5 linked regions of the Homo sapiens genome follow. The protein of the gene in region 5 purifies or fractionates together with the protein of the main gene of each other region. This does not show direct contact. Each region holds a gene or a part of one and is shown on either strand. Other genes may lie near its edges. The genes, in order: NOTCH2, HPN, TMEM106A, CLGN and PROS1.

Region 1 (6,217 bases), on a different chromosome or scaffold from region 5:
TTGTGATTGCTTGCATCTCGGCGAAGAGTGAAACCTTCAGGCAGCCAGAGAGAGCCATGCTTACGCTTTCGTTTTGCCATGATTACCCCCAGCAGAATAATAAACAGAATGATGACAACAGCAACAGCAAGGAGATAGAGGAGCTGAGTGCGTTCTGGAGTCAGGGATTCACCTGAAAGTCCACAGAGACAGGGAAAGTGCTGAATAAAACATTAACCTCTCAATGTCAGCATTAGATTCATTTAGAGGGCAACTTTGACCTCAACAGTCCTGAAAAAATAGAGGGCTACATAATGAAAATTGTTCCCCCAATTGACACTCTTCCCCCGCCACCTTTCCCCTTTACACCAGTGCCACTCACTGACGACAGACACAAGAGGGTATGACAGGGTCCCCTGTATGGCGTGAGAGGCCAGGAGAGCTGCTGCTGCATCCGTGTTCTTGAAGCAGTGGTCTGAGTCTTGAACACACTGGCGGTTGTCAATTTCCAGAAAGACTTTAGAGCTGTGGGATGCCAAGGGAGAAGCGGAGGAGGAGAGATGGGGGTAAAACAGAAGAGTGCAGGTCAGGCAGAACATGTCATAAAGGGTGACAGGAGCCTCCCTTCCTCCCCTTCAGCATCAGGTCCCCACCTCTGGGATGCTGCCTTAAGACATATCTCAGGAATTAGAATACTGTCCCTTGAGATCTTAAACACTAATTCCCACATAGAGGATGTCCCACCTTCCTTAGTCTGGCTGACCAAAGCCTTCTGGCTGAGGCAATGCATGACAAAGTGAGAAGCTGTGCTTTCCTCCCGAAGGTTTCAGTGGTCTTCTTCCACTCTTTCATACCTACTCAGTGGTACTTGGTGCTACTCTAAACATACATCCCTGTGTGTTTTTAGTCCTTATTTTCCTTTGTCTCTGCATTGGTATCTCAGCTAGCTGGAGGGTTGAAAGTTTGACAATATACCAACAAAGAGTGAGGTGTGAATGACAGAGCAACTGAAGATCATTACCTGTGTCAAAGAGACATATATTCTAAAGAAGGGCCTTAACAATAAGGCAATGATTAATGTAAAAAGGAATGTCACTAATAAAGGGATTTGAGGCAACTCTGGCAAAAGGTTATGGATTCTGGCATCTGAGGAGGCCTTCCAGACATTCTGCCTCCTGTGTACCCCTGCCCACTTTTCAGCCAAGACGAAGGCATATCTTTACATTTAAACGTAAGTACTGGGGTAACGGGTTTATCTTAAGTGGTGGGCCATTCTATTTTTCTGATCTTTGCATTTCTATAGGTTGAGTTATGACTTGTGCTATATGTCAAAGTGCTAGGCTTCATAAAATTAGCCTTGAAGTTCAGAAACCAAACACCTACCCAGCCACCTCCTGTTCTTGTTCACCAGGAAGGGATCTGCGTGTCATCCTCTGTTTCTTCATAGCAGCTGACTTCTCACCATAATAGGGGTACACCATGAGTTCCCCCTGGGAGTCCCGCTTAATGCGCAGGTTGGTGTGGAGCAGGGTACCCAGTGCCCGCAAGAAGCTGCGAGCATCCTGGAGCAGTTGTTCAGGTGGCATCAATACCACAATAACCAGGGTACCTTCTGCCAGGTTCTCAGGTTGGTCAGCAGCACAGTCCAGCCCATCCCAACCACACTCCTCACTGTTGCACCCCTGGTCACAGTGGTTGTCTTTGAAGTGGTCTGCACAGTATTTGTCATACCTAGGTAAGGGGAAGCAGAGAACAGGCAAAAGAGCTCAGATTAGACTGGAGCTCTATTTGCTTTTTCATTTGGAACTACTGTGGATTTTCCTACCCATTTTCTGTGGCCCACACCCAGGACCCAAATGCCCCACAAAACCTTCTTTGCATCTCCTATCCCTGATGCCTATGCCACTCATCCTTGTTGAGTACTTCCTAAATGAAGAACATTGTACTCACTATGCTGCAGGAGCTTAGGGGCTCCCAGGCAGTTTACAAGCCTGTTAAGTCAGGTTTTCAAACAAAGCTGCATATCTGAAACAAAAGTCAACCTGGTTCATGCTTCCTCTACTTTAGAGAAATCCATTGCCCCCAGTAAGGTAACAACGGGCTTTAGGAAGTGAAAGATGCCTCTAGAAACTTGATACAAGGCCCTGAACCATTGAGAGTTGCCATACAGAGAACAATATTAACATGACCCATTTCTTTCCCTTTCAAGAGTGAATCCCAACTACAGAAGGTAAAGGCAGATGGGTATGTCCTTATAGCACACCAGATATTACTTGTACAGGCTCTTTCAATATTTGGAAAAGGAATTAGAACCCCCAAACCTAAATGATGTACAAACTATTCCATCTATACTCTCCTCTCCTCATCCCCTACCCCTTGATATTTATACTATTTGGTACAACTTTTCATGCTAGCTCAATCAGAAGATTAGGAGTCAAAGAAACAACTTGCTTTGGCAAGTTCTTTAACCCTTGGGCCTAAGTTCTCTCACCTATGAAAGAATGTTAGTAATACCTATGCCTCGTGAGTTGCTGAGAATTAATTGGGATTAAATTATATGGAATGGCTAGTTAATAGGAAAGTTCCTAAGTAAACCATAGAGCATCCTATACAATTAAGACCGGGAGGGTTCACAGACTTAATCTAATTCATGCTTCCTGATAAATCTAGATGGGGAAAAACAGTCTTAGGGAAAGGAATGGGGTGAAGAGAGAGATACAGACCTTTCCATCCATCCTGCAGGCAGGTTATGTGAGAGGCTGCTTGAAGTGGGAAACACCACTTCCAAAAGTTATATCCCCCAGGAGGTCACGAAGGCAGCAGGTGAGAAGGCAAAGATAGGCAGAGAGAGAGGGTCATTATGCAATGAGCATTCCTGGCCCATTGTCAGCAAGGGAGAGCACAGGGCAGTGTGCGATGGGACAAGGCTGGCACCATCTGAAAAGCAGAGGCAGCTTAGGCTGAAGCACTGGAGTGGTTAGGAGCAAGAACGAGAAACTGAAGTGTGTTAGTGACAGTCCCCTTCAGTTCTGGAAAACGTGAAGCCCTTACTTGCATGTCTTGCTGTTCCCCTGGCATTCAAAGTTGTCAAACAGGCACTCGACCGTGTTGCACAGCTCATCACACTGGTTGTTGATATAATCCCAGCAGGGAAGTGGGGAGGAGCAGTTGGCCCAGGGGTTCTCCATGGTGAGAGAACAGTCACCCCCATCCCACTGGCAGGCATGGCTGTTGCAGGCCTCATCACAGACGCCATCCCGAGCTTTGTCGGCACAATACTGGCTCAGACAGGTGGCAGGAGGGGTGCTGGGGGGTGCCGTGTAGAGTTCACAGCGGCTACCCGAGAATGGTGGGGCACACTGGCAGGAGTAATAAGGAGGCTGGCGCTGAGGGTGGCAGCTGCCCCCGTGCTGGCAGGGGCTACTGGCACAGCCTGACTCGCAGTCCCGGGGACTGGGGCAGAAGCAGCGGGGTCCAGAGGCGGTGTGCACACACTGCTCCCCCTTCCTACATTTCACTTGTCCACAGCTGCTCTGGCACCTTGCCCCGGAAAATCCCTGTGGAAATCAGTGAGGAAATAAAAATGGCATTGGTAGGAAAACAGTCATATTGGAAGTTTGAGGTTTCTAGAAAACCTCCACATCTCACTCCCTTCTGTACTTCCCGTTCAGCCCAAGCCAAGGTTACTAGACAGGTTTCCTTTTGGTATCTCCCGAGGCATAGGGATCTCTTGTTTTGGGAAGGTTTCAACCTCTGGCAGTGATAAAAGAATGGGTATAGCAAATAGCTAAAATTGAGCTTCCCTCTACTTTAAGAGACAACTTGCTTCCAAATGGTTCCTGCTAAAGAATGTAAGAGCAGCATTTCCACCAACTCTGGCCCAATCTGGGCAGTGAGATTACCCTCCAGCCTGGGGCCAAGAAGCCCCACACATCAGCCCTATTTTCAAGGGGGCACTCCACCACTTTTTGTGGTTTTCCCTTAGTTTTTCTTAAGACTGACAGTCATGGATTGGGAAGCTCACTGTTTCTGGGAGTGTCTAAACAGCTTTTATTTGTTTTTGTTTTGTTTTGTCACTTGTAAACAGCTTTAAATGGAAAAACCCAAGCACTTTCCTCTGAAAGAGCTAAAATTGAGAAATCTTCCCATTTCGAAGATTGGTAAAACCAGGTTTAATCTCAGTTCTGTTCACAGATTGTATGGAAGAGACAATGCCCCTTCTTAGATGAGCAACAGGGCACTTACCGGGGGACAACGGCAAATGAAACCATCAGGCATGTTACTGGCCACAGCACAAGTCCCTCCATTCAGGCAGGGCATCTGGGGACACACATCGACGAAGGTTTCACAGTGCCGGCCTCAGAAAATAAAAAATAAAAAAGGTTTTAAAAGGCAGAAGTAGTCACTGCAAGTTACTCAACAAACTTTGCTGGGATGGGAACTAGCCATAGGTGAAGCAAGTGTGAGAGAGTTCAGTTCTAGGCCTGTGGTAATCTGAGCATAGAAAGAAAACACTCACTGCATCTCAACATGATTGGCCTGTCACCAGCTCAGGCCAGTCCCTTACTCTGTCTTGCCTACACAGTAAGTACCAACTCACACAACAGGGTGGGTGAGAAAAGTGACTTAAATCCCATCAAAAAAAGAGAAATCACACTTCAGCTTTTTGAAGTCATTTTAGCTTTCATAAGTTGCAAAAAAACAGTTGAAAAACTATTCACTGCATTTTGTTAATGTTATCTACTTCATAGGAGAGGCTACACCAGGCCAATACATTTAAATGGTGATTTGCGGTATAGAGAATTTTCATCTGTGATACCTCATTTCAATCACTTTTTGGCCTTTCTGTAACCTAACTCGTATTCCTTAAAACACAGCTTAATTTTCCTAGAGTTAGTTTCCTCTAGGAATAGTTCTAAAACGGAAGGCCCCTGGGGGCCACTGCTCCAAGATAAAGAACGAGGCAACTGGAACCACAGAGGAGACGCAGGGCACAGCTGGGACTCCTGGCCAACAGCAGGAGATAGGCCCCATTTGGCCGGTGGTCACTTGGGAAAGAAGAGGTAGCTTTAAAAATGAAATAAAAATAGTAATGTTTTTGGCCAACGAGATCAAGCAGCAAGAGGTATAAATGTTTGTCTCTTCAAATCACAGCAGCAGCCGCTAACCAAGAGCAGCCACCACATGGACACAGCTTGGTGGACCACCAGTCCCTTGCTGTTTATCTCTGCAACAGCATCCCACAATAACTGTGCTCAATGTATTCAAGGGATTTTTTTTTTTTCATTCACAAATGTGGAAAATGCACAAACACTACTTCCTGGCTGTGGGATACTACTTCAAAGTGGTCTCCATTCCTTCCTTCTCCTGCTTCCCCCTTACTTTGCAAATGCTTGTGTTTCCAGAGAAAAAAGCCTCAGGGGCAATGAAAGAAACAGGAGCCAGTTTTGATGCTTTGGCTTTCAAAGTGCAGTTTGGCCAATACGAGGCTGTAGACAGATTATTCATACTTATTCTGTTCCACATTGCCTCAATAGCTATTATGTTCACAATGGACTATTTCTTTTTTGATGTTAGTGTATCCAGGGAGCTTCCATATTGCAGAATCCCTCCCATTCTTTACAAAATTCCAAGATTGTAAGGTAGCATATCTTTAAAGTTGGAAGGAAAGATGGCTGGAGATGGGCTCAGGATGTAGCAGAGTTCAGCTTGATGAATTGTTTGTAAACAGACTATTAAAGCCTATTTTCTGACTCCTAAGGAATCTGATCACACCCTCCATATAAGAAATACAACTACAGACCCCAGGAAATGCATGATAAATTTCAAATCTGAGTATCCTGCCACATCTGGATACAAACAACTATTTTAGTTCCCAAAAGTCACCATGCTGCCCTCTCCAGAAGTAACTAGTAAGTTCTTGTGATAAGACCCCTATTCTGAGGCAGAGCTTGGTCATCTTCAGGCCCTGTGATGAAAGAAAGAAGCTTGGGAACAGAGTAGGAACATGGCCAAGCCTTTACTGGGCAAGGCATTACTTGTGACCACTGCAACTTTTCATTTCATACCCACATCAACTGATCTTTGGTTAAACACACTTGAATTTGGACCTGCCCCCTTTAAGTATCTAAGCAGGGTCCTAAGCTTCTCTGAGTCCTAGGGGTGGAAAGATCATGGTGGCAGGAACTACCCAGTAATTCAAGCCATCACATGTCAAAGGAGGCAGGGTGAAGAAACC
Region 2 (6,217 bases), on a different chromosome or scaffold from region 5:
CCTCAAGTGATCTGCCCGCTTCAGCCTCTCAAAGTGCTGGGATTACAGGCGTGAGCCACCATGTCAGGACAGGGTTTGGTTTTAAAGAAAAGCATGTATCACTCCCTTCAATGGGAAACCAGTACCACAGATCATGAAAAATAAAATAAACATAAAAATAAACATAATGCCAACCCCAACATGGCCCTGGATTCTCCGTCACCACAGCGTGGGGGCCACAAGCACAGATTCCAGTGCCAGTCCACCTGGGCACAAATCTTTGCCGTTCACCAGCTGTACGAATTTGGGGCATTGTTTGCCTTCTTTGGGTTGGGACCTTTTCCTGGGTGGAAAACAGGATCTTAAGAGAACCCTCCTTACCAGGGTGTGCTGGGGTTGCTGTGAGAACTAAGTGAGTCCATACACAGGACATATTTGGAATGGTGCCTGGCACACTGCTATGTTTACCAGATTATTTTACTGTGTTGTGTACACTCATCATGTACTCCCTTATTCCCTTTTACTACTTCATGATCATGAACTCGCTATACTCGAATACTCAATCATGAACTCGAATACTACTCGCTATTACTACTTCATGATCATCATTATCACCGTTATTATTATTATGTTCTGAGACAGGGTCTCGCTCTATCAACCAGGCTGGAATGCAGTGGTGTGATCATGGCTCACTGCAGCCTTGATCTCCTGGGTGATCAGGTGATTCTCCTGCCTCCGCCTCCCAAGTAGCTGGGACCACAGGCGCGCACCACCACAGCCAGCTAATTTTTTTTGTTTGTAGAGATGGGGTTTTGCCATGTTGCCCAGGCGAGTCTTGAACTCCTGAGCTCAAGCGATACCCCCACCTTGGCCTGGGATTACATGCCCAGCCTATTTTTATTATTATTATTACACTGCAGCCTGCTGAAATCTGAAGCCCAGGGCCTGCTTTTAATCCAAAAGGAAGATGTATGTGTTGGAGAGGTGTTAAGGACATGTTGGCACCTAAGTGAGTCTCAGTAAGACCAAGGGAATACTCCAGGGAATTGCAGAGGGAATGACTCCTAACTTACTTTCTAAGTCTGATTCATTCATTTTTAACACATTTTCTTTTCATTTTATTAGTTTTTTGGTAACAGCTTGATTGAACTACTATTCACATATTAGACAATTCCTTTTAAAGGCACAAGTCACTGGCTTTTTGTGTAGTCACAGACAAGTGCAACCATGATCATGATCGACTTAGAATCTTTCATCACCCAGACAAGAAACCTTGTGTCCTTCACCAGTCACCTCCCAATCTCCCATCCCCACCTCCCACCCTGCCACCATCAATCAACTTTCTATCTCTACCGATGTGCCTATTCTAGACATTTCTTTTCTTTCTTTCCTTTTCTTTTCTTCTTTTCTTCCTTCCTTCCTTTCTTTTCTTTCTCTTTCTTTCTTTCTTCTTTTTTTAACAGACAAGGTTTTGCTCTGTTACCCAGGCTGGAGTACAGTGGCACAATCCTAGCCCACTGCAGCCTCAAACTCCTGGGCTCAAGTGATCCTCCTGCCTTAGCCTCCTGAGTAACTGGAACTACAGGTATCCGTCACCACACCTAGCTCATTTTTTTAAGTGATGGGGTCTTGCTATGTTGCCCAGGCTGGTCTTAAACTCCTGAGCACAAACAATCCTCCCATCTCAGCTGCCCAGAGTGCCAGGATTACAGGCGTGAGCCACCGTGCCCAGCCTTGTACATTTCATACAAGTGGCATCCTACAGTATGTGGCCTTTGCGGCTGGCTTGTCTCATTCAGCACTGTTCTCAAGTTTCATCCTTGTGGTAGCATGAATCAGTACCTCATTCATTTCTATGGTCCAATATTCTCCCGTTGTGTGGATATACCACATTTTTTTTGTTATTTATTTATTTATTTTCAAGATGACAGAGCCTTGCTCTGTCAGCCAGGCTGGAGTGCAGTGGTGTGATCTCGGCTCACTGCAATCTCCACCTCCCGGGTTCAAGAGATTCTCCTGCCTCATCCTCCCGAGTAGCTGGGATTACAGGCGTGTGCCACCACGCCAGGCTAATTTTTGTATTTTTAGTAGAGATGGAGTTTCACCATGTTGGCCAGGCTAATTTTTGTATTTTTAGTAGAGATGGAGTTTCACCATGTTGGCCAGGCTAATTTTTGTATTTTTAGTAGAGATGGAGTTTCACCATGTTGGCCAGGCTGGTTTCAAACTCCTGACCTCGTGATCCACCCACCTCGGCCTCCCAAAGTGCTGGGATTACAGGCATGAGCCACCGCGCCCGGTCAATATACCACATTTTCTTTATGCATTTGTCCGATGAAACAGTCTTGGGCTGTTTCCATCTTTGGGCTATTATGAATAATGCTGCTATGAACACTGATGTACGAGTTTTGGTGCAGACACAGTTTCCATTTGTCTTAGGTATATACCTCCTGTCCTGGGAGTGGAAGTGTTGGGTCCAATGGTAACTTTATGTATACTTCTTGGGGAAATGCTGGCAAATTTTCCAAATTGGCTGCACTGATCATTGATAGTTAAGGCCCACTTTGTGCTCCCTCGAGATCATTCCCCTTATTGCCAAGGATGCCTGAGCCATAAGTTGATTGCCTTGTGCCCCTGGTCCCCTCCTCTGTCCTCCTGGCCTCGGGTCCTCAAGCCCCATGGCTCAGCCCTTAGACTTACCTGTGAGGGGCAGGGGACTGGAGAGGTGGACCAGGGCAATATCGTTGCTGTTCTCCTCGCTGTTGGGGTCCCGAAAGGGAAGATAGCCCCCGTGGTAGACCACAGCCTGCACCCCCAGCTGCAGACCGTGGGGAGAGGCCTGGGCCACGGCACCGGCAAACACTCGCCATCGGGACAGGACCCGGTTCCGCCTACCAGGGAAAGGGGTGGAGGGTGGCCACCTGCCTGGGCACAATCCGCCCTCCTCCCCACTGTCTCTCCGCTCCTCTGCCTCCCCATCATCAGCGCCATTGGGGGGCACTCACTCCGGGAAGCAGTGGGCGGCTGTCAGCACCCAGTCCCCGGAGAGCAGGGATCCCCCACAGAGGTGTGCTCCATCATAGCGAAGGCTGACTTGCCACGGCCACCGGCCCAAGCTGGTGTCCCGGCCTCCCACGATGCGGTCCACGGGCAGCTTCCTGCGGCCACAGTCTGTGGGACAAGGGTCAGCAGGGGGCGGCGACAGGGGACTGGAGCCCAGGTCCCCAGAGCCCAGGCTTGGCCCTGCCCTAGGGGGTCTGAAAGTACATGGCCCCATCCTGGGGAGCTTGAGGGGACGTGGCCTCCCCAAGGGCCTAAAGGAGAGGGTTCTGAGTTTTAGGATCTCACCTTGGCAGATGGCGGCCAAGAAACGGCCTCTGGGGCAATCACTGGGAGAGATGGGATTGGAGACACAGAAAGAAAGGAAATAGAGACCAGTTAAGACAGGTGGAAGGAAAACGGGGAGAGGGAGTGCCTTGGGGGTCTGAGGTGTTGCCCCACCTGCCCGCTGCCCTCCTCACCACACGGAGATGACCTCCAGCAGCCTCTGGGTGTGGGGCAGCCTCCCCTCGTCCACACAGAAGAAGCCCGACGTGCCATTGGCGCCCGCCGTTCGCACGTCCAGCTCGGAGTGGGTCAGTGCCCTGGGCGGGGCAGGGGTTAGGCCTGCTCCCCAGCCCCTCCCGGCTCCCACCCCTCCGAGGGCCCCCAGTACCTGAGGAAGCCCATCTCCTCGCAGCTGAGTCCGGCTACCCTGGCGTTGGAGCGCGAGGAGCACAGCAGCCGCCACGTCCCTTCCGTCTTGTCAAAGACCATGAGCCGAGCGTCCGCAGAGCTGACCTGCACTGCAGGGCGACAGGGCCCGGGGCCGCCTGGGTCCCACAGCCAGGCTCCCCACATGCTTCCCCAGCCGGAGCCCCTCCTGGCCTGTGCTCCAGCCATGTGGTGTAGACGTGAACCCCAGCCCATCGGAGGGTTGCAGCCCCCACATCTGCGATTGCATCTGGAATCATGACTCAAGGACTTTTTTTTTTTAAAGACAGGGTCTCGCTCTGTTGCCCAGGCTGGAGTGTAGTGGTGTGATCTTGGCTCACTGTAGCCTTGACCTCCCAGACTCAAGAAATCCTCCTACCTCAACCTCCTGAGTAGCTAGGACCACAGGCGTGCACCACCACACCTGACTAATTTTTTTGTTTGTTTGTTTTGTTTTGTTTTGTTTTGTAGAGACGGGTCTTGCTATGTTGCCCAGGCTGGTCTTGAACTCCTAGGCTCAAGCAATCTTCCTGCCTCTGCCTCCTAAAATGCTGGGATTACAGGTGGGATTACAGAGCACCATGGCACTCTGCCAGACTCAAGGACTCAGGTCGGACCAATCAACAGCAGCCTTGAGGCTGTGGCCGGCCCCTCCGCGAACCAGGGGAACTTCACTCTCCATTAGAAGTCCTAAGTTGGCTGCTCAGGAGCTGCAGGTCTGGAAGGTGACTTGGACATTCGGGAAGAAAAAAAACCATTTAACCAAGTTCCCAAGAGAATCCAGCACTTGAGGCTGGATCTGTTAAGGGTCATGTTCACCCTCTTGAGGGAAAAAGTGAGCTAACGTGGAGGAGAGTCAAGAGATTTCTGATAACATTTTATTTTATTATTGTATTTTTTGTGGAGAAACCGAAGCTCTTTATTAGTATGTTTGTCATTTGTCTTTTTCCATTTGTCTTTGGTCACACCCTTAACTCATATAAAAAGACCTCTCACTTTATACGTACACAGACAGCATATGGAAAATAGAAGAACAAATTTGTTGCCAGTTTGTAGATCATAGCCTGGTTTCTTCATATGAACTTTTCCATAGCTATATGGAGTAGTATTATTATTACATAATATAATATTAATATATTGTTATAATATAATATTAATATATTGTTATAATATAATAATATATTATTATAATATAATATTAATATATTATTAGAATATAATACTAATATATTGTTATAATATAATATTAATATATTATTATTATTATATCAAACAGATTAACTCTCCTTCCAGAGTGATTTCTATCTTTTAAAATATGTATTTATTTGGGAGGCCGAGATGGGTGGATCACAAGGTCAGGAGTTCAAGACCAGCCTGGCCAAGATGATGAAACCTCGTCTCTATGAAAACTACAAAAATTAGCCAGGCATGATGGCAGGTGCCTGTAATCCCAGCTACTCGGGAGGCTGAGGCAGGAGAATTGCTTGAACCTGGGCAGCAGAGGTTGCAGTGAGCCAAGATCGTGCCACTGCACTCCAGTTTGGGCGACAGAGTGAGACTCCATCTCAAAAATATATATGTATTTATTTTATTTTTATTTATTTATTTTTTTGAGACGGAGTCTCACTCTGTTGTCCAGGCTGGTGTGCAGTGGTGCAATCTCAGCTCACTGCAACCTCTGCCTCCCGGGTTCAAGCGATTCTTCTGCCTCAGCCTCCCGAGTGGCTGGGATTACAGACATGCACCACCATGCCCAGCTAATTTTTTTGTATTTTAAGTAGAGATGGGGTTTCACCATGTTGGCCAGGCTAGTCTCAAACTCCTGACCTCAGGTGATCTGCCTGCCTCGGCCTCCCAAAGTGCTGCGATTATAGGTGTGAGCCACTGCACCCGGCCTTAAAATATGTATTTATTTTAATTGACAAAATTATATACATTGATGGTGTACAAGATGATGTGAAATATGTATACGTTGTGGAACGGCTAAATCAAGCTAATTAACACATGCACTACCCTTTGTGTGTGGTGAGAACACTTAAAATATCTTTTAGCAATGTTCAAGTATATAATATATTGTTATTAACTATAATCACCATGTTGTTCAATATATCTCTTGAACTTATTTTTCCTGTCTAATGGAAATTTTGAATTATTTGTCCAACAAGACATTTATATCTTTAAATTAAATAATATTTAATCATTTTGGTATAAATACTTCTCATTTCTTAAACTTACCCTTCTATGTTTTATGAAAAATAACTTTAATAATATAGTATAAATACATATCAATTTTTAATATCGGAATTCATTTCCCATCTGATAACTTTTTTTTTTTTTTTGAGACAGAGTCTCGCTCTGTCACCCAGGCTGGAATGCACTGGTGCAACCTTGGGTCACTGTAACCTCCGCCTCCCGGATTCAAGCCATTGTCCTGCCTCAGCCTCCCGAGTAGCTGGAGCTACAGACACATGCCACCACACTTGGC
Region 3 (5,551 bases), on a different chromosome or scaffold from region 5:
CCCGGTCCGTCATTGTGCAGCCTGCAGGCCTCAACTCCTCCACAGTGGCCTTTGATGAGGCTGATATCTACCTCAACATAACGGTGGGTGGGTGCCCTTGGCTCCAAACCCCCCTTCCTAGCAATACTTCGCTGTAACCTTTGTCCAGTGTTATGACCCTGGGCATGGGAAGCCAGAGATCTTATGGCACCCAGAGGGTGTTGGGAGCCTGAAGAGAAGTAGGAGCAACCATGAGCTCCATGACAGATGGTAAGGATTGGGACTCTACACAGTAAGGGGTCAGAATCCGGGCCAGATAAGTAAACCACAGGGGTGGAGTGGGGTGACAGTGCCTGAGACTCTCTGGATGGACAGGACTGAATGGAAAGAAGCTGTACAGGATGGACCTGGATCCTGAGGCAGCTTAACTTCGTAAAGTTGACCCCTCACCATTCAATGCCCCTCCAAGGGGCTCCCAGTTTTCATCCTCTGCACCTGAAGCTTGTCATGGTAGATGGGGCTCAGGCCAGACAGCCAGGCTTTTGCAACTGTTTGGCTTTTCCTAAGGATGGGCCATCTTCACTCCTCCCTTCCCTTGTCTTCATCCCCAGAATATCTTAAACATCTCCAATGGCAACTACTACCCCATTATGGTGACACAGCTGACCCTCGAGGTTCTGCACCTGTCCCTCGTGGTGGGGCAGGTTTCCAACAACCTTCTCCTACACATTGGCCCTTTGGCCAGTGAACAGGTGACTCCCCTCTCCCTGGCCAGCCCTGCCCACTGGTGTGTGGATGTGTGGTAGTGGGAAAGGGGCAGCTGGAGTTGGGGCTAACCCTGTGCCCATTTGGTTGACAGATGTTTTACGCAGTAGCTACCAAGATACGGGATGAAAACACATAGTGAGTACCCCTTGATCTCTTCTCCCCTAGCCACTTGCCTGGCTTAGGGACCCAATTAATACCCACCAGCTTTCCTGATTGCTTAGCAAATTCTTCAGCCAGCATCTGGCCTGCCCTCCCATGGCCGAGAATGTAATAAGCAAGGGTTCAGGGTCCCCAGCCTCTGCTTGTTTGGACCTTGATTAGAATGAAAAACAGGCTGGAATTTGGTTAATCTTTACAATATGTGACCTTGGGCTCTTCAGCCTGCATTGCTGAGGAAGAAGAATGTTTTGTCTGTCTCCTGAATGGGGGTCCAGCATGTGCCTGGGCCAAGTGAGTGGAGGTCAGAGTGATAGTGCAGCCATGCTGCTACACTCACCTGAAGGGTGGGAAGGGGTGGGAGTGACATTTTGGGGGCACCTGATGGAAGGAAAGAGTTCTGTGGGGTAAGGAAACTGGGACCTGCAGGCATCTTCTGAGCTGACAGGCTGCTCCATGTGACACGTGGTCCCACGTTCTCTTTTCTTCTCTCTCAGCAAAATCTGTACCTGGCTGGAAATCAAAGTCCACCATGTGCTTTTGCACATCCAGTAAGTAGAGCTTGGAGCTCTGGTATCCCTGCTCTCACTTCTGACTTCATTCTCACTCAGCTACACCTCATGGGCAGAGAGTCTTCCAAGCTGACCCCATGAATCTTTGTTGGCTCTTGGGAATAGCAAGTCTAGCCCCTTTTCTGAGTCTCACCTTGCCTATAAGTTATTAGGGGCAACAGGCATAGGGCTGTCTGGAAGCTGCTGGAAAACAGGTGGGGCAGCTGTCCCAGGTACCTTGGCAGAGTGGGGAGCCAGAGGGAAGGGCAAATGAGGGAGCTCCCCGCTCCCCACCCCCAGACAGTATAATGGGGCCAGAGCTTTCCTTTTCCTCCCAGCCATGGCAACAAGGCCTGCTTCCTCTCCAGGGGCACCCTGACCTGTTCATACCTGAGCCATTCAGAGCAGCTGGTCTTTCAGAGCTATGAATATGTGGACTGCCGAGGAAACGCATCTGTGCCCCACCAGCTGACCCCTCACCCACCATGACCTGTCTGCTGTCCCTGTACTCCAGGCACCTGCAACCCTGGTCTATATCTCCCACAACTCCCTGGTGACTAAGGAAGGACTACAGAGGCTTTGCCAAAGGAGAAGCCCTGCCTCATCACACCCTTACCTCCCACCCCCTCAGCACAGGAAGCTTGCTTTGAAGTTAACTTCATACACACACACTCATATCCTCCAGTTTCCCCCAGATTCTTTCAGGGGCTGCCATCAGATTCTGCCCTTGGTTAGTTTTTTGTTTTTTTTTTGGTAGAGACAGAGTCTCACTGTTGGTCCAGGTTGGTTTTGAACTCCTGGGCTCAAGCGATCCTCCCTTCTTGGCCTCCCAAAGCACTTGGATTACAGATGTGAGCCTGTGCCTGGCTGGTCTTTCTTGAGGAAAATCTGACCTGGCATTTTCTTGAGGCACCTTAGATTCCCTGGAGTGGCACCTGGCCTTTCTGTACTGAGCACCTGGTCAGTCTGAAGGGGGCATTTCACCCCAGCTCCATCAGGGCTGGCTGTCCCGTCTGAATGTGGAGAGAGCTGTAGTTTTATCTGGCTTTTAAAACATGGACCTGCCGGCTGGGCGCAGTGGCTTACACCTGTAATCCCAGTACTTTGGGAGGCCGAAGTGGGTGGATCACTTGAGGGCAGGAGTTCGTGACCAGCCTGGTCAACATGGTGAAACCTTGTCTCTACTAAAAATACAAAAATTAGCTGGGTGTGGTGGCATGCGCCTGTAATCCCAGCTACTCGGGAGGCTGAGGCAGCAGAATCACTTGAAACCGGAAGGCAGAGGTTGCAGTGAGCCAAGATCGTGCAACTGCACTCCAGCCTGGGCAAAAGAGCAAAACTTTGTCTCAAAAAAAGACTCTTTTCAAGTTTTCTACCCTCTGATAAGAAAATTTGGGGATATCCAGTGCCATCTCCAAGGACTTTCAGGGGATCATAGATGCTTTTCTGTGCCTATCTGCTTTGACCATGTGAAAAAGTGATAGTCTGCTTCTCTCTGGTAACTTGTCTGCCACCCATCTGATAGTAAGATTAGCCAAGGCCCTTTAGCCCTCTGTCCTTTCTGGTTATTGACTGTCCCTGGTTCCTAGGAAGACAGAGTTGTTCTCCAGCTAAAGCGTCTCCTCTCTATAAAGTAGTTTTACTATTCTTTTCATAGCAGGAGCCAAAATAGTAGAGGAGGGGAGAGAGGCACCTGGCACTCTGCGGGCCTGCACAGGAAAAACAGAGCCAAAGACAGAATCATTGTATAAGATATTTATTAAAGGAGAGCCTCTAAGTCCACATCCTGAGCCCATGTGAGTGGACACAGGTAGGTAAAACGGTGGGTCCAGCTGCTGTCATCTGAAAGCCTTCAGGAGATGAAGCTATCAGTATCCAGCTGAAGGCTGCTGGGTTCTGTTCCACCACCACCTTAGCACCAGGGCCCTCTCTGGTCCCAGAGGCCTCATCTCTCCTTGGGCTTTGACAATGTGGAGCAGCACATCAGCAGGGACTGGTCTAGACCCTCCCTTTCCTGTCACTTAGCTGGAGCTAAGCTCCAGATAACCCCTAGGTTCCCACTGGCTCCTAGTAGAAATAGTTTCTGTACTTTAGCAGAACAGGAAGGATATTTGTTCATTAAAGGTGGCTTGGTCTTACAGCTGGGTGCAGTGGTATATACCTGTAGTCCCAGCTACTCAGGAAGCTGAGGTGAGAGGATCTCTAGAGCCCAGGAATTCAAGTTTAACATGAGCAGCAACATTAGCAAGACCCCGTTTAAAAAAAAAAAAAGAGCTGGGCGTAATGGCGCACACCTGTAATCCCACCTACTCAGGAGGCTGAGGCAGGAGAATCACTTGAACCTGGGAGGCAGAGGTTGCAGTGAGCCAAGATCGCACCACTGCACTCCAGCCTGGGCAACAAGGGCGAGACTCTGTCTCAAAAAAAAAAAAAAAAAAAGATGGCTGTCTCTTTATCATTCAGACAGAACGATGAACACAGGTGAGCAGGGAAAGCTAATTTTGAAGTAGGATGCATGGAGAGGGAGAAGTGGTGACAGAACTTGGTAACTAGCTGGCTGGGGGAACGAGGGGAAGGAAGGAGACTGCTGTCTCCAAGCTGAGGTCAGGGTGGTGTTGGCAAGAGCGCAAAAGTCCAGGGAAGCCAGGCTGGAGCTGCTGTGTATAGACTGCCAAATGTGAAGTATTTATATTGTATTCAATAAACTATACTTAAGAGTGTTCAAAAAAGTCTCCTGGGAGTGGGAAGGGAGCTAGTGGATACTCCCTATTTCACAAACTTTTCTTTTTTTTTTTTTTTGAGACAGTTTCGCTCTGTTACCCAGGCTAGAGTGCAATGGCATGATCTTGGCACAGTGCAACCTCTGCCTCCTGTGTTCAAGTGATTCTCGTGCCTCAGACTCCCTGAGTAGTTGGGGTTACAGACATGCACCACCACACCAAATTAATTTTTGTATTTTTAGTAGAGACAGTGTTTTATCATGTTAGCCAGGCTGGTCTCAAACTCCTGGCCTCAAGCGATCTGCCCGCCTCGGCCTCCCAGAGTGCTGGGATTACAGGCATGAGCCACTGCACCTGGCAGAAACTGTTTCCTTAATGTTCTAACGGGCAGCAAGGTTTCTTCCCCAGGCCTCTGAGCCACTGATGACATATCCTGCCCTTCTGTTTTCCGTGAGATTGCTCACAGGACCTCACTCTCCCTCTTGCTCCCATTGTGTATCTCTAAAGTCTCTTCCAATTTTACTATTCCTGTTCTGTGCCACCACCATCCCGTTATCTTCCCCAGCTGCTCTCATCAGGAAATTTCGTGGGTTGCACTGAAACGGCCCCTTCAGACCAAAGGCAATGCTATGTAGGCTAAAATGAAATACGCAGCTGATGCCTCGGACGGGGCTTGTGATTGAGGTGACTGAGGCAGCCTTTCTCAGCATGGAGGAAGAAAGGCTTTCCCAGGGCTTGCACCTTCCTGAAGTCTAACACCCAGGGCCCCCAGCCCTACCCACTCCTTCACCTTGGGCTGGTGAACCTCTGGGTTGTCTCTGCTAGATGGAGAGGCTGAGAGCCAGGAAGGGAGAGGGCTGTGGGTTTTAGAAGGCAAGACTCCCTCCCCTTCCCAGGGTCAGGTGTCATGTTCCTGAGGCTATAGCCTCCGTTTCCTCCAAGCTCTTTCGCTCCATCCCTGCCTCCATTGTCCATTTGACAGCTGAGTGCCCACTGTAGGCCAGCCATTGCACTGGGCTTGGAGGTGGGGAGCATCACTGCCTGCCACCACTTTCTGCTGCTGCAGGCCTGCTCTGATGTGATGCGACCCCTCCTTCCCCAGGCTATATCTCAGTAAGCATGGGCTTGGGGGAATGGGTGATGGCTCCAGTGACAGTCATAAACTGAAGCCCCCCACAGACTTATCACTGCTGAATGAGGGCAGGTAGTGATAGTAGTAGGAGTTGCATACTTGGGGGGGACCCAAGACCCAGTTCTCCCATTGGCTTTGCCTAGAGAAGCATAAACTTGCCTTCCACTCTCTTTCCACCCTCTCCATCCCCTTCGTGAGTCCTCCTGCCCTCTTCCTCTCATCCCTGTCTCATAAAGCTGTCCGGT
Region 4 (6,217 bases), on a different chromosome or scaffold from region 5:
TCTCTGTTTCAAAACTTATTACAAAGCTATAGTAATCAAATCAGTGTGAGACTGGCATAAAGACAGACATATATATCAATGGGATACAATAAAGAGCCTAGTAATAAATTCCCACATATATGTTCAAATTTTTTTTATAAAAGTGCCAAGACCATTTTGTGAGAAAGGACAGTCTTCTCATGAGATGATATTGGGGAAACTGGCTATCCACATGCAAAAGAATGAGGTTGTAACCTTACCTTAAATCATAGACAAAAATTAACTCGAAATGGATTGAAGACTTAAACATAAGAAAACTATAAAACTGTTAAAAGAAAACATGGAAAGCTTCATGACATTGAATTTGCCAGTAATTTTTATATGACACCAAAAGCACAGACAACAAAAGAAAAAATATATAAATTGGAAAACTCAAAATTAAAAAGTTCTGTGCATCAAAGAACACAACAAAATGAAAAACCTATGCAATGGGAGAAAATATTTGCCAATCATATATTTGATAAGGGGTCAGTATCCAGAATTTGTAGGAACTCCTACAACTCAAAACAAAAACAAAACCTGATTTTTTAAATAGGCAAAGGACTTGAATAGACATGTTTCCCTTGAAGATGTATAAATAGCCAACAAGCACATGAAAAGATACTCAGTATCACTAATCATCAGGGAAATGCAAATCAAACCACAATATGATACTACGCCATATTAGGACCTATTACAATGACTACTATTTAAAAAAACATAATTTTGAACAAATGTTGGCAAGGATGTGTAGAAATTGGAACCCTTGTGCCTTGTTGGTGGGAAGGTAAAATGGTAAAGCCACTGTGGAAAACAGTATGAGGATTCAAAAAAAAATAGAATTATCATATGACCAAGCAATTCAACTTATGGGTATATACTCAAAAGAATTGAAAACAAGGTCTCGAAGAGTTATTTGTATACCCATATTCATTGTAGGATTATTCACAACAGCCAACAGGTGGAAGCAACCCAAGTGTCCACTGACAGATGAATGTATAAACAAAATGTGGTGTATACACACAATGGAATACTGTCCAGCTTTAAAAAGGAAGGAAATTTGATACATGCTACAACATGGATGAAGCTTCAGGGCATTATGCTAAGTAAAATAAGCCAGTTACAGAAAGACCAATACTGTATGATTCCACTTATATGCAGTACCTAGAGTAGTCAAAATCATAGAGATAGATATTAGAAAGATGGTTTCCAGGGGCTGGAGGGAAGGGTAGTGGGGAGTTGTTAAAAGTGTATAGCGTTTTAGTTTTAGAGCATGAAGAAAGTTTTGGAAATTAGTTGTACAACAATGAGAATGTTTTACCACGTGATTTAAAACAATTTTAAATGCATAAATTAACTACTTCATTTTCTTGTAGTATTACCCCAGCATCTGACCTCTCAGAGTTTCAGTACAGACTTGTCAATAGCATACCTCTCTCTAAGAAATGAGATGTCACAAACCTCATAGTTTTGTTTGGAACTTAATAACATGTTGGCACCATTGTGAGACAGATTTCAAGACTGTGAACTTCAGTATCTAATTCTCAATTGTCAGCTGGTGCAGCACTGAAGAATGATAGGATACTGCAGCATTACGCAGAAAGTATTAAGTCTGTATTTCTGATTTTTTTTTTTAAAAAAAAGAACAAATAAAAACAATAGAACTGCATTGTCTACAGAATGCCTTCTAACCAATTGCAGTTCTTTAAAACTCTCTGTTTTTGTTTTGTTGATTAGGAATAGTACCTACGCTATTCATGTCCTGGGCTGTAAAGATTAAATTAGCTAGTTCTTTGATGTAAATATAAGATCATAGAATTTTAAAGAAGAAACAAACTTTCAAGATAAAGTGTTTTCTGAACTGTTTTCTGAAGCATTGGCAACTATTTCTAAGGAAAAGTCAGGAAAAACTATAATATAGAATACAAATAAAACTGGGGTGCTCTGGTTGAGTTAAGGGTAGAGTTCCAGATAGAGCACTACCTGCTTGGCTTCCTCTTAACTCTTTCTTGGCAGCCCAGTACACCAGAGTTCAAACAAAGCACTTAGAATGTTTTTTTTTCAACAAATTAATTGTTTGGAACCTAAAGTGTACATTCATTTGAAAGAGAGGATATGGGTCTAAAGTTATATTAATGTTCATTATTAGTAGTATTATTTTATGTGTTTTTATTTTGCTCAAAAATGATTAATAGCCAGTCAAGCAAAGTGCCTTTTACTATGTAACATGGAAGGCCCTTAGGCTTTTAGAACAATGAAGCTTTTAGAGTTCACAATTAATAAGCAATTTGCAGATATACAAATTTCTGTGCCAATAACTAGGAAATTAAGGAAATAAGCCTATTTCATTGTGTCAAATTGATCCCTTTACATTTACTTCCTATCCCAGTTATACCTCTTTTGTGATTTAGAGAGATCAAATCCTAGTTAATGACAGCACCCATCATTTTTGTCTTTGTCCATAAATATATAAGTAATTATGTAATTGTGGAATTATAGGAATTATATATGCAAAAGAACTTTCTCCATAGCAGTCTACCTGATTACAATAAGCCCTATATTTGTTTGATCTTTTGAATGTGCTTTGATTTTAGTAAAACTCTACCACATTAAATTTGTGATAAAAAAATTTTTGTATCTTTTCTCAGCATTTATATATAAATGTATTTTGGTTTTATAATTATAAAATTTCCATTTTTATGTTTATATACACTTAAGCAACATTATAATAAAAACAATTTCAGTGAACATTTAGGAATCATGATACTTTTAAAGAGGTCTACATATTATTTGTGTTTGATAACTACTATCATCTTTATCTTTAGATTTTTTTTTTATTATACTTTAAGTTTTAGGGTACATGTGCACATTGTGCAGGTTAGTTACATATGTATACATGTGCCATACTGGTGCACTGCACCCACTAACTCGTTATCTAGCATTAGGTATAACTCCCAATGCTATCCCTCCCCCGTTCCCCCACCCCACAACAGTCCCCAGAGTGTGATATTCCCCTTCCTGTGTCCATGTGATCTCATTGTTCAATTCCCACCTATGAGTGAGAATATGCGGTGTTTGGTTTTTTGTTCTTGCAATAGTTTACTGAGAATGATGTTTTCCAATTTCATCCATGTCCCTACAAAGGACATGAACTCATCATTTTTTATGGCTGCATAGTATTCCATGGTGTATATGTGCCATATTTTCTTAATCCATTCTATCATTGTTGGACATTTGGGTTGGTTCCAAGTCTTTGCTATTGTGAATAATGCCGCAATAAACATACGTGTGCATGAGTCTTTATAGCAGCATGATTTAGAGTCCTTTGGGTATATACCCAGTAATGGGATGGCTGGGTCAAATGGTATTTCCAGTTCTAGATCCCTGAGGAATCGCCACACTGACTTCCACAATGGTTGAACTAGTTTACAGTCCCACCAACAGTGTAAAAGTGTTCCTATTTCTCCACATCCTCTCCAGCACCTGTTGTTTCCTGACTTTTTAATGATTGCCATTCTAACTGGTGTAAGATGGTATCTCATTGTGGTTTTGATTTGCATTTCTCTGATGGCCAGTGATGATGAGCATTTTTTCATGTGTTTTTTGGCTGCATAAATATCTTCTTTTGAGAAGTGTCTGTTCATGTCCTTCGCCCACTTTTTGATGGGGTTGTTTGTTTTTTTCTTGTAAATTTGTTTGAGTTCATTGTAGATTCTGGATATTAGCCCTTTGTCAGATGAGTAGGTTGTGAAAATTTTCTCCCATTTTGTAGGTTGCTTGTTCACTCTGATGGTAGTTTCTTTTGCTGTGCAGAAGCTCTTTAGTTTAATTAGATCCCATTTGTCAATTTTGGCTTTTGTTGCCATTGCTTTTGGTGTTTTAGACATGAAGTCCTTGCCCATGCCTATGTCCTGAATGGTAATGCCTAGGTTTTCTTCTAGGGTTTTTATGGTTTTAGGTCTAACGTTTAAGCCTTTAATCCATCTTGAATTAATTTTTGTGTAAGGTGTAAGGAAGGGATCCAGTTTCAGCTTTCTACATATGGCTAGCCAGTTTTCCCAGCACCATTTATTAAATAGGGAATCCTTTCCCCATTGCTTGTTTTTCTCAGGTTTGTCAAAGATCAGATAGTTGTAGATATGCGGCGTTATTTCTGAGGGCTCTGTTTTGTTCCATTGATCCATATCTCTGTTTTGGTACCAGTACCATGCTGTTTTGGTTACTGTAGCCTTGTAGTATAGTTTGAAGTCAGGTAGTGTGATGCCTCCAGCTTTATTCTTTTGGCTTAGGATTGACTTGGCGATGCGGGCTCTTTTTTGGTTCCATATGAACTTTAAAGTAGTTTTTTCCAATTCTGTGAAGAAAGGCATTGGTAGCTTGATGGGGATGGCATTGAATCTGTAAATTACCTTGGGCAGTATGGCCATTTTCACGATATTGATTCTTCCTACCCATGAGCATGGAATGTTCTTCCATTTGTTTGTGTCCTCTTTTATTTCATTGAGGAGTGGTTTGTAGTTCTCCTTGAAGAGGTCCTTCACATCCCTTGTAAGTTGGATTCCTAGGTATTTTATTCTCTTTGAAGCAATTGTGAATGGGAGTTCACTCATGATTTGGCTCTCTGTTTGTCTGTTGCTGGTGTATAAGAATGCTTGTGATTTTTGTACATTGATTTTGTATCCTGAGACTTTGCTGAAGTTGCTTATCAGCTTAAGGAGATTTTGGGCTGAGACAATGGGGTTTTCTAGATATACAATCATGTCGTCTGCAAACAGGGACAATTTGACTTCCTCTTTTCCTAATTGAATACCATTTATTTCCTTCTCCTGCCTAATTGCCCTGGCCAGAACTTCCAACACTATGTTGAATAGGAGTGGTGAGAGAGGGCATCCCTGTCTTGTGCCAGTTTTCAAAGGGAATGCTTCCAGTTTTTGCCCATTCAGTATGATATTGGCTGTGGGTTTGTCATAGATAGCTCTTATTATTTTGAGATATGTCCCATCAATACCTAATTTATTGAGAGTTTTTAGCATGAAGGGTTGTTGAATTTTGTCAAAGGCTTTTTCTGCATCTATTGAGATAATCATGTGGTTTTTGTCTTTGGCTCTGTTTATATGCTGGATTACATTTATTGATTTGCGTATATTGAACCAGCCTTGCATCCCAGGGATGAAGCCCACTTCATCATGGTGGATAAGCTTTTTGATGTGCTGCTGGATTCAGTTTGGCAGTATTTTATTGAGGATTTTTGCATCAATGTTCATCAAGGATATTGGTCTAAAATTCTCTTTTTTTGTTGTGTCTCTGCCTGGCTTTGGTATCAGAATGATGCTGGCCTCATAAAATGAGTTAGGGAGGATTCCCTCTTTTTCTATTGATTGGAATAGTTTCAGAAGGAATGGTAGCAGTTCCTCCTTGTACCTCTCGTAGAATTCAGCTGTGAATCCATCTGGTCCTGGACTCTTTTTGGTTGGTAAGCTATTGATTATTGCCACAATTTCAGATCCTGTTATTGCTCTATTCAGAGATTCAACTTCTTCCTGGTTTAGTCTTGGGAGAGTGTATGTGTCGAGGAATGTATCCATTTCTTCTAGATTTTCTAGTTTATTTGTGTAGAGGTGTTTGTAGTATTCTCTGATGGTAGTTTGTATTTGTGGGATCAGTGGTGATATCCCCTTTATCATTTTTTGCTGCGTCTATTAGATTCTTCTCTCTTTTTTTCTTTATTAGTCTTGCTAGCAGTCTATCAATTTTGTTGATCCTTTCAAAAAACCAGCTCCTGGATTCATTAATTTTTTGAAGGGTTTTTTGTGTCTCTATTTCCTTCAGTTCTGCTCTGATTTTAGTTATTTCTTGCCTTCTGCTAGCTTTTGAATGTGTTTGCTCTTGCTTTTCTAGTTCTTTTAATTGTGATGTTAGGGTGTCAATTTTGGATCTTTCCTGCTTTCTCTTGTGGGCATTTAGTGCTATAAATTTCCCTCTACACACTGCTTTGAATGCGTCCCAGAGATTCTGGTATGTTGTGTCTTTGTTCTCGTTGGTTTCAAAGAACATCTTTATTTCTGCCTTCATTTCGTTATGTACCCAGTAGTCATTCAGGAGCAGGTTGTTCAGTTTCCTTGTAGTTGAGCGGTTTTGAGTGAGATTCTTAATCCTGAGTTCTAGTTTGATTGCACTGTGGTCTGAGAGATAGTTTGTT
Region 5 (6,217 bases):
CTATGCATAAAGTAAAAGCTACAAATGAAGACTAATGCTGGGGTGTTAAATTAGCAACTCAAGTACCATTAAGGGCATACATGGTGTTGCCATTGGTAATATTAATTTTCCAAAGTGGTGGGAAGTTCCTGGTAAAGATATGAACAAAACAAATATCAATCTATCCTTAGTTGTCAAGATTATTACATTCTTGAAAAATGTAATGAATGCTAAAATAGTGCAGCAAATATTTTGTGTCTATGTATGCACAAACTCAGATGATTGTAAGCATGAATATTCCCTACATGAATACCTAGCAGTGATGTTCAAAAGATTTTAAGAATACTTGATATTTTATTATTAGTTCTGCATTACTTATTATTATTAATTCTGCATGACTAGCCTATGTACATAATGCAGATTGTCTATCATCTTGCAGTGCCAGCATGGCCCCTACTCATTGTGACAAATAAAAGTGTTCCTCACCTCCAAATTTTCCAAATGCCCTGGAGTGGAGTCATAGTGTCTCACTTAAAATACTTGCATGGCTACAGGAAAAAGGTCTGGGGCCTGAGCTGTGGGGAGGGGAGGATCCAGCAAAGGAGACTGAGAAGTAGTGGTTAGAGTGTAGAAAGAGAAGCAATCAGGGTCAAGTGTTGTAGGCTAAGTTAAGAAAGTCTGTAAAGGAGAGAATAGTTGTTCACATGCTGCTAATTGGCTATATTAAAGAAGGAGTGTTGACCAACTTTAAATTTGTGTAACTAAATTTATTTTATGTTGGAGGATAGTTTTTCCCTTCCTATCATGGTGTTTTAATATGCTTATTGTTTGGCTTATATTATTGGTTAGTGAGTGAAGAGTTTGCTCTTTGAGTGCTATAGTTTTACTTGAAGTGATTGCAGCAGTGGTTCTTCAAATTGCCTTTGTAGAAGGAATTTTTATTGTTGTTTACCCTTACTTGAAACCTTTTTTAAAAACCCAAACAACTCTCAAAATTGGAAAACTCCAATTTAATTTTATGTATTTTTTTCTTATTGCCTCAATCACTTTTGAATTTTAAAGAAAAAATAATTTGTGTGCAATTAACAGAATAGTGAACATATTGATTTTTCTTACTTTATATTAAGAACTTATGGGCCGGGCGCGGTGGCTCACGCCTGTAATCCCAGCACTTTGGGAGGCCAAGGCGGGTGGATCATGAGGTCAGGAGATCGAGACCATCCTGGCTAACAAGGTGAAACCCCGTCTCTACTAAAAATACAAAAAATTAGCCGGGCGCAGTGGCGGGCGCCTGTAGTCCCAGCTACTCGGGAGGCTGAGGCAGGAGAATGGCGTGAACCCGGGAAGCGGAGCTTGCAGTGAGCCGAGATTGCGCCACTGCAGTCCGCAGTCTGGCCTGGGCGACAGAGCGAGACTCCGTCTCAAAAAAAAAAAAAAAAAAAGAACTTATTTACACTATTGATTCCATGTGCGTATTATCAGACAATTGCAAAATAAGGCCACTTAAATTTTTCCTAAGATAGAATGGCTCACTTAATTGTTAATTTTCTAGCAGCCTGGAATTGAAAGATATATAACTGGATGTTTAAGCTTAACAGAATAGTATTTTTTTTAACTTTAAAATATGGTATGCTTTTAATTTTTGATCGTGCTGCCACCCTAAATGCCTTTTTATCACATTTATCATAATTTGACATTCCAAATGAGTTGTAACAAATTAATAATTACATTAAAATGATTACTTTACAGAAGTATTTTATTGGAATAATAACATAAGTTTTAGATCCCAGTATTTCAAATGACATGTAGTAATACTTGGTTATTTGGTAATTTTTCTTTTTAATTGTAGGTGTCTGTGGAAGAATTAGAACATAGTATTAGCATTAAAATAGCTAAAGAAGCTGTGATGGATATAAATAAACCTGGACCCCTTTTTAAGCCGGAAAATGGATTGCTGGAAACCAAAGTATACTTTGCAGGATTCCCTCGGAAAGTGGAAAGTGAACTCATTAAACCGGTAATGATCCAAGCTTGTATCATTCATCATGGATGAGTTCCTTTTGTCTGTAATAGATTTGAATATGTGTGTTTCTGAGAATCAATAGAAGTTGTTTTGTTAAGCATACTAAGTGTGACAACTTGAAATGATCATGGAAAAATAACATTAGTAACCCTTGAAATTATATTAATGAAATAAAAAAATGACGTAGTGGTTTTGTGCCCATTTAAATCCCCAGCATAAATCATGAAGTGGATTTCTAAAATTCTCAAGTTAACACTTGAGAATGTTAACACTAATGTTAACATTAGTAATGTAATGTTCAGTGTTAACATCATGATAATCCATACTCAGTTGTTAAACATATAAATTCATATATTTAAGTCCAAAATTACACCATTTTGTAAAAGCCAGTCAAAGGACTTTCTCAAGTCTATTTTTAGGACTTAAATGCAAGAGCTAAAGAATAGCACATAAGGTGAAATTTATTGTTAAATATTTACTATCTTACATCCGTCTTTCATTCTCTGGAAATTCGTAGTTACTTTAACTTTTAAAAGATTTCCATTATATGATATTAAGCTTGAATTAATTAACCCATGTTGACATGAGTATACCTGTTGTTTGAAACTGAGAAATTAATACACTTTAAAAGTAAAATAAATTATTCAAAAAGTATCAATCATTTATGAAACGGTTATTACATGTCTTGAGCCTGGCAGGATACTTGATGGAGGCTAAAGAATGCAAACACTTTTGTGTCTGAAGAGACTTAGAGTCTGATTGGCAAGACAAACCCATATTATAAATGCCACTAAAGAAAAACAAGGCCAGGCGTGGTGGTTCACACCTGTAATCCCAGCAATTTGGGAGGCCGAGGCGGGTGGATCACCTGAGGTCAGGAGTTCAAGACCAGCCTGGCCAATGTAGCAAAACCCCATCTCTACTAAAAGTACAAAAATTAGCCAGGCGTGGTGGTGGGCACCTGTAATCCCAGCTACTCAGGAGGCTGAGGCAGGAGAATCGCTTGAACCAGGGAGGCAGAGGTTGCAGTGAGCCAAGATCCTGCCACTGCACTCCAGCAAGACTCCATCTCAATCAAACAAACAAAGAAGATAAACAAGACAACTTAGAGCCCAGGGCCACAGCTAGAAGCAAATATAGAACTTGAAAGCAGAAAAGTTACCACTGGATGATGTAGGAGAGGCAGGTGGGGCTTGAAGTGTTAAAAACCATTAAGATCCCACTGAGGGCTTGTGATAGTATGAGCTTGCTTGTACTGAAAAAGACTGTCCATCTGAAGAATACTTTGAAAAGAAAAACTTAAATAAAATTCAAAATATTTTCAACTATTATCAAAGAAAGGATTTTTTTTCTCTTAATGAAAACCTATACTCATAATCGAGCCACTGTTTAAGTTTAAAATGCACTCCTTGACTTGTATTTTAATTTGTTAGATTAACCCTCGTCTAGATGGATGTATACGAAGCTGGAATTTGATGAAGCAAGGAGCTTCTGGAATAAAGGAAATTATTCAAGAAAAACAAAATAAGCATTGCCTGGTTACTGTGGAGAAGGGCTCCTACTATCCTGGTTCTGGAATTGCTCAATTTCACATAGATTATAGTAAGTGATTTTCCATTTATCTCTATTTTCTCATTAATGAGTAAATTTATTCATTAACAAACAGTAATAATTTATTTGTGAAACATTATTGAGTATCTACTGTGTGCCCACTCTAGTCTTATGCTTATTCATACTATTATATACCTTTTACAAAAATTTTTCAGTGTATTGGGAAAAATATAAAGGCATTTGAATGTGCTTGTGTTGTTATTTCAGGTTTATCAGTACATAGCCTGATTCCTTATGGGTAAATTCAATTGACCTATTTTAAAGTTCACTGATTTCTCACTTGTATGGAGTCTATCAATGAATGCATCAGAAAGATTCATCTTCATTTCTAGCATTTCTATTTGATGCTTTCTTAAAATTTCTACCTCCCTGTTGAAATTCCCTATCTGTTCACACTTGTCTAGTTTATGTACTGAGTTTTCAATGTATTCATCATAATTATTTTAAATTCCCTGTCTCGTAGTTCCAACTGTGTCATATCTGAGTCTCGTCATTTTGTTTGCTTTGTCCCTTGACCAAGTGTTGTTTTTCTTGCATCTTTGTGTACCATGTAATTTTTGGTTTAGATTTGGGCATCTTACGTATAACAGTAGAGACTGAGATAAAGAATATTTGTGTCTGGAAATGAGCACATTTCTTTTGCTAGGCTCTTAGTAATGGGATTGAATCAATCTAGTGAAAAGTTGAGCTTCTTAAGTTTTGTTGGTGCCAGGATTACCCTTAATGCACCACAGGTTTCAGATCTTTTATTTTGTTTTGTTTTGTTTTTGAGATGGAGTCTCACTTTGTCACCCAGGCTGGGGTGCAGTGATGCAATCTTGGCTCACTGCAACCTCTGCCACCTGGATTCAAGTGATTCTTCTGCCTCAGCCTCCTGAGTAGCTAGAACTACAGGCGCCCGCCACCACGCCCGGCTAATTTTTGTATTTTTGTGTTTTTGGCCAGGCTGGTTTTGAACTGCTGATCTCATGATCCACCCCCTTGGCCTCCCAAAGTGCTGGGATTACAGGTGTGAGCCACCGCACCCAGCCTCAGATTTTCAAAATACTACCTTCTGCTTAGAATAAGGGAATGGTTTGGTAGCTAGTTTTTCTTTTTCTTTTCTTTCTTTTTTTCTTTTTTTTTGAGACTGAGTCTCACTCTGTCACCCAGGCTGGAGCTCAGTGCCACAATCTCGGCTCACCGCAACCTCCACCTTGCAGGTTCAAGTGATTCTCATGCCTCAGCCTCCTGAGTAGCTGGAATTACAAGGGTGCGCCACCATGCCCTGCTAATTTTTGTATTTTTGACGAGGTTTTGCCATGTTGGCCAGGCTGGTTTCAAACTCCTGACTTCAGGTGATCTGCTTGCCTTAGCCTCTCTAAGTGCTGGGATTACAGGCTTGAGCCACCGTGCCTGGCCTAGAGAGTTTTTCATCATAGCAGCTCAGTTTTATGTATTCCCTCCATAATACGCCTCAAGAAAATGTCTCTCCCACTTGTGTCTCTCAAGTGTCTTGCCCACCCCTAGCAGAGTGCTCTTGTTACCTGACATTTGCTAACATGGCAGAGAAGATGCGGAGGTTGGGGAAGCATTCTATGTTGTTGTCGTACAAATTCAGTCTTAGGCAGGTGTTGTATCCCTGGGTCTCAGGAGTGTGGAATTTTCACTGTTCCTCTTCCCTGACTCTCATCAGTAGGGGAGATGTCTAGTGATCAGGACTCAATATGTTTTCTTGCTCCTTCTGCATGATAGATAGCTTTTTTTGTTTGTTCTTCCTAATCTGTAGTTGCAATGAGTCTTCATATGTGTCCTAATGACAAGGTTTGCTGCCTTTCTCCTGGCTTGAAAACTTGTGTTGTGTAGAGGAGACCGAGAAGGATCTAGATGGGGCTTTGTGGCTTCCCTGTAGCTGGTGCTGCTTTCAGGACCATATTAAGAGAGAGGCTTTTTCGGATCTCCTTCCCTGCACTCTGTTTTCTCTTGAGTGCATGGTAAGGTCTGTGGAGAAGAGCCTGTGAATGAGCATGAATTGTCTTTGTGTCTGTAATTTCTAGGGCTTCTAAACTCTTACGTCAGCCCCTACATGGAGTTCAGCAATTTGTTTAAATCTTTACCTAAATTATTTTTACCAAATTGCATGGCATTTCCTGTCTGCCCTGGATTAGAAAGTGTTCTCATTCTGGCTTTCCTTGGAAACACCTGTCTTTCTTTAGGTTTCTGGTTAGTTTGTTGCTCTGCGACCTCAGCTCTTTGATAGTTTCAAGAAAAGTCATGATTATGCAGATAATTTGGCTTTTGTTGTTGTAAGGGTGGGAGTGGTGCCCTTTCCACTTTTCTACAGCCTAAGTGGAGCAGGGAATCTTGCCATACTGACCCTAGGTTTTTAACCTTAGAAGTAATACTTCTGTGAACATCCTAAATCATACATCCTTCTACCTTTATGTGATTAATTCTATGGAAGAAAATTTTAGAATTAGGTTATCTCTATCAAAGGTTATGCAAATATATAATTATTAGAGGTTCAATTACATTCTTTTCCAAAAATCTTTTATCAATTAATATTTCTACCAACAGAATGAGAAAGTGTATGCTTTAGTTTTTTTCCAATCTGATAGTTCAAAA

The links.
Region 1: the proteins of PROS1 (region 5) and NOTCH2 purify together in Homo sapiens (co-immunoprecipitation; one large-scale study listed by IntAct). This does not show direct contact.
Region 2: the proteins of PROS1 (region 5) and HPN purify together in Homo sapiens (co-immunoprecipitation; one large-scale study listed by IntAct). This does not show direct contact.
Region 3: the proteins of PROS1 (region 5) and TMEM106A purify together in Homo sapiens (co-immunoprecipitation; one large-scale study listed by IntAct). This does not show direct contact.
Region 4: the proteins of PROS1 (region 5) and CLGN purify together in Homo sapiens (co-immunoprecipitation; one large-scale study listed by IntAct). This does not show direct contact.

The regions. Positions count from the first base shown.
Region 1 is NC_000001.11:119,922,275-119,928,491, forward strand, and holds part of NOTCH2 (neurogenic locus notch homolog protein 2 isoform 1 preproprotein), read right to left. Parts: intron 4,338-6,217; coding exon 4,225-4,337; intron 3,537-4,224; coding exon 3,031-3,536; intron 1,711-3,030; coding exon 1,363-1,710; intron 505-1,362; coding exon 362-504; intron 173-361; coding exon 1-172. UniProt on the Homo sapiens protein: Functions as a receptor for membrane-bound ligands Jagged-1 (JAG1), Jagged-2 (JAG2) and Delta-1 (DLL1) to regulate cell-fate determination.
Region 2 is NC_000019.10:35,057,280-35,063,496, reverse strand, and holds part of HPN (serine protease hepsin precursor), read right to left. Parts: intron 4,439-6,217; exon of another isoform or gene 3,825-4,438; coding exon 3,695-3,824; intron 3,624-3,694; coding exon 3,501-3,623; intron 3,369-3,500; coding exon 3,328-3,368; intron 3,151-3,327; coding exon 2,985-3,150; intron 2,871-2,984; coding exon 2,680-2,870; intron 1-2,679. UniProt on the Homo sapiens protein: Serine protease that cleaves extracellular substrates, and contributes to the proteolytic processing of growth factors, such as HGF and MST1/HGFL. Plays a role in cell growth and maintenance of cell morphology.
Region 3 is NC_000017.11:43,215,859-43,221,409, forward strand, and holds the end of TMEM106A (transmembrane protein 106A), read left to right. Parts: coding exon 1-83; intron 84-590; coding exon 591-731; intron 732-838; coding exon 839-882; intron 883-1,400; coding exon 1,401-1,454; intron 1,455-1,822; coding exon 1,823-1,943; 3' UTR 1,944-4,183; downstream 4,184-5,551. UniProt on the Homo sapiens protein: Activates macrophages and polarizes them into M1-like macrophages through the activation of the MAPK and NF-kappaB signaling pathway.
Region 4 is NC_000004.12:140,415,991-140,422,207, reverse strand, and holds part of CLGN (calmegin precursor), read left to right. Parts: intron 1-6,217. UniProt on the Homo sapiens protein: Functions during spermatogenesis as a chaperone for a range of client proteins that are important for sperm adhesion onto the egg zona pellucida and for subsequent penetration of the zona pellucida.
Region 5 is NC_000003.12:93,882,115-93,888,331, reverse strand, and holds part of PROS1 (vitamin K-dependent protein S isoform 2 preproprotein), read left to right. Parts: intron 1-1,828; coding exon 1,829-1,996; intron 1,997-3,435; coding exon 3,436-3,604; intron 3,605-6,217. UniProt on the Homo sapiens protein: Anticoagulant plasma protein; it is a cofactor to activated protein C in the degradation of coagulation factors Va and VIIIa. It helps to prevent coagulation and stimulating fibrinolysis.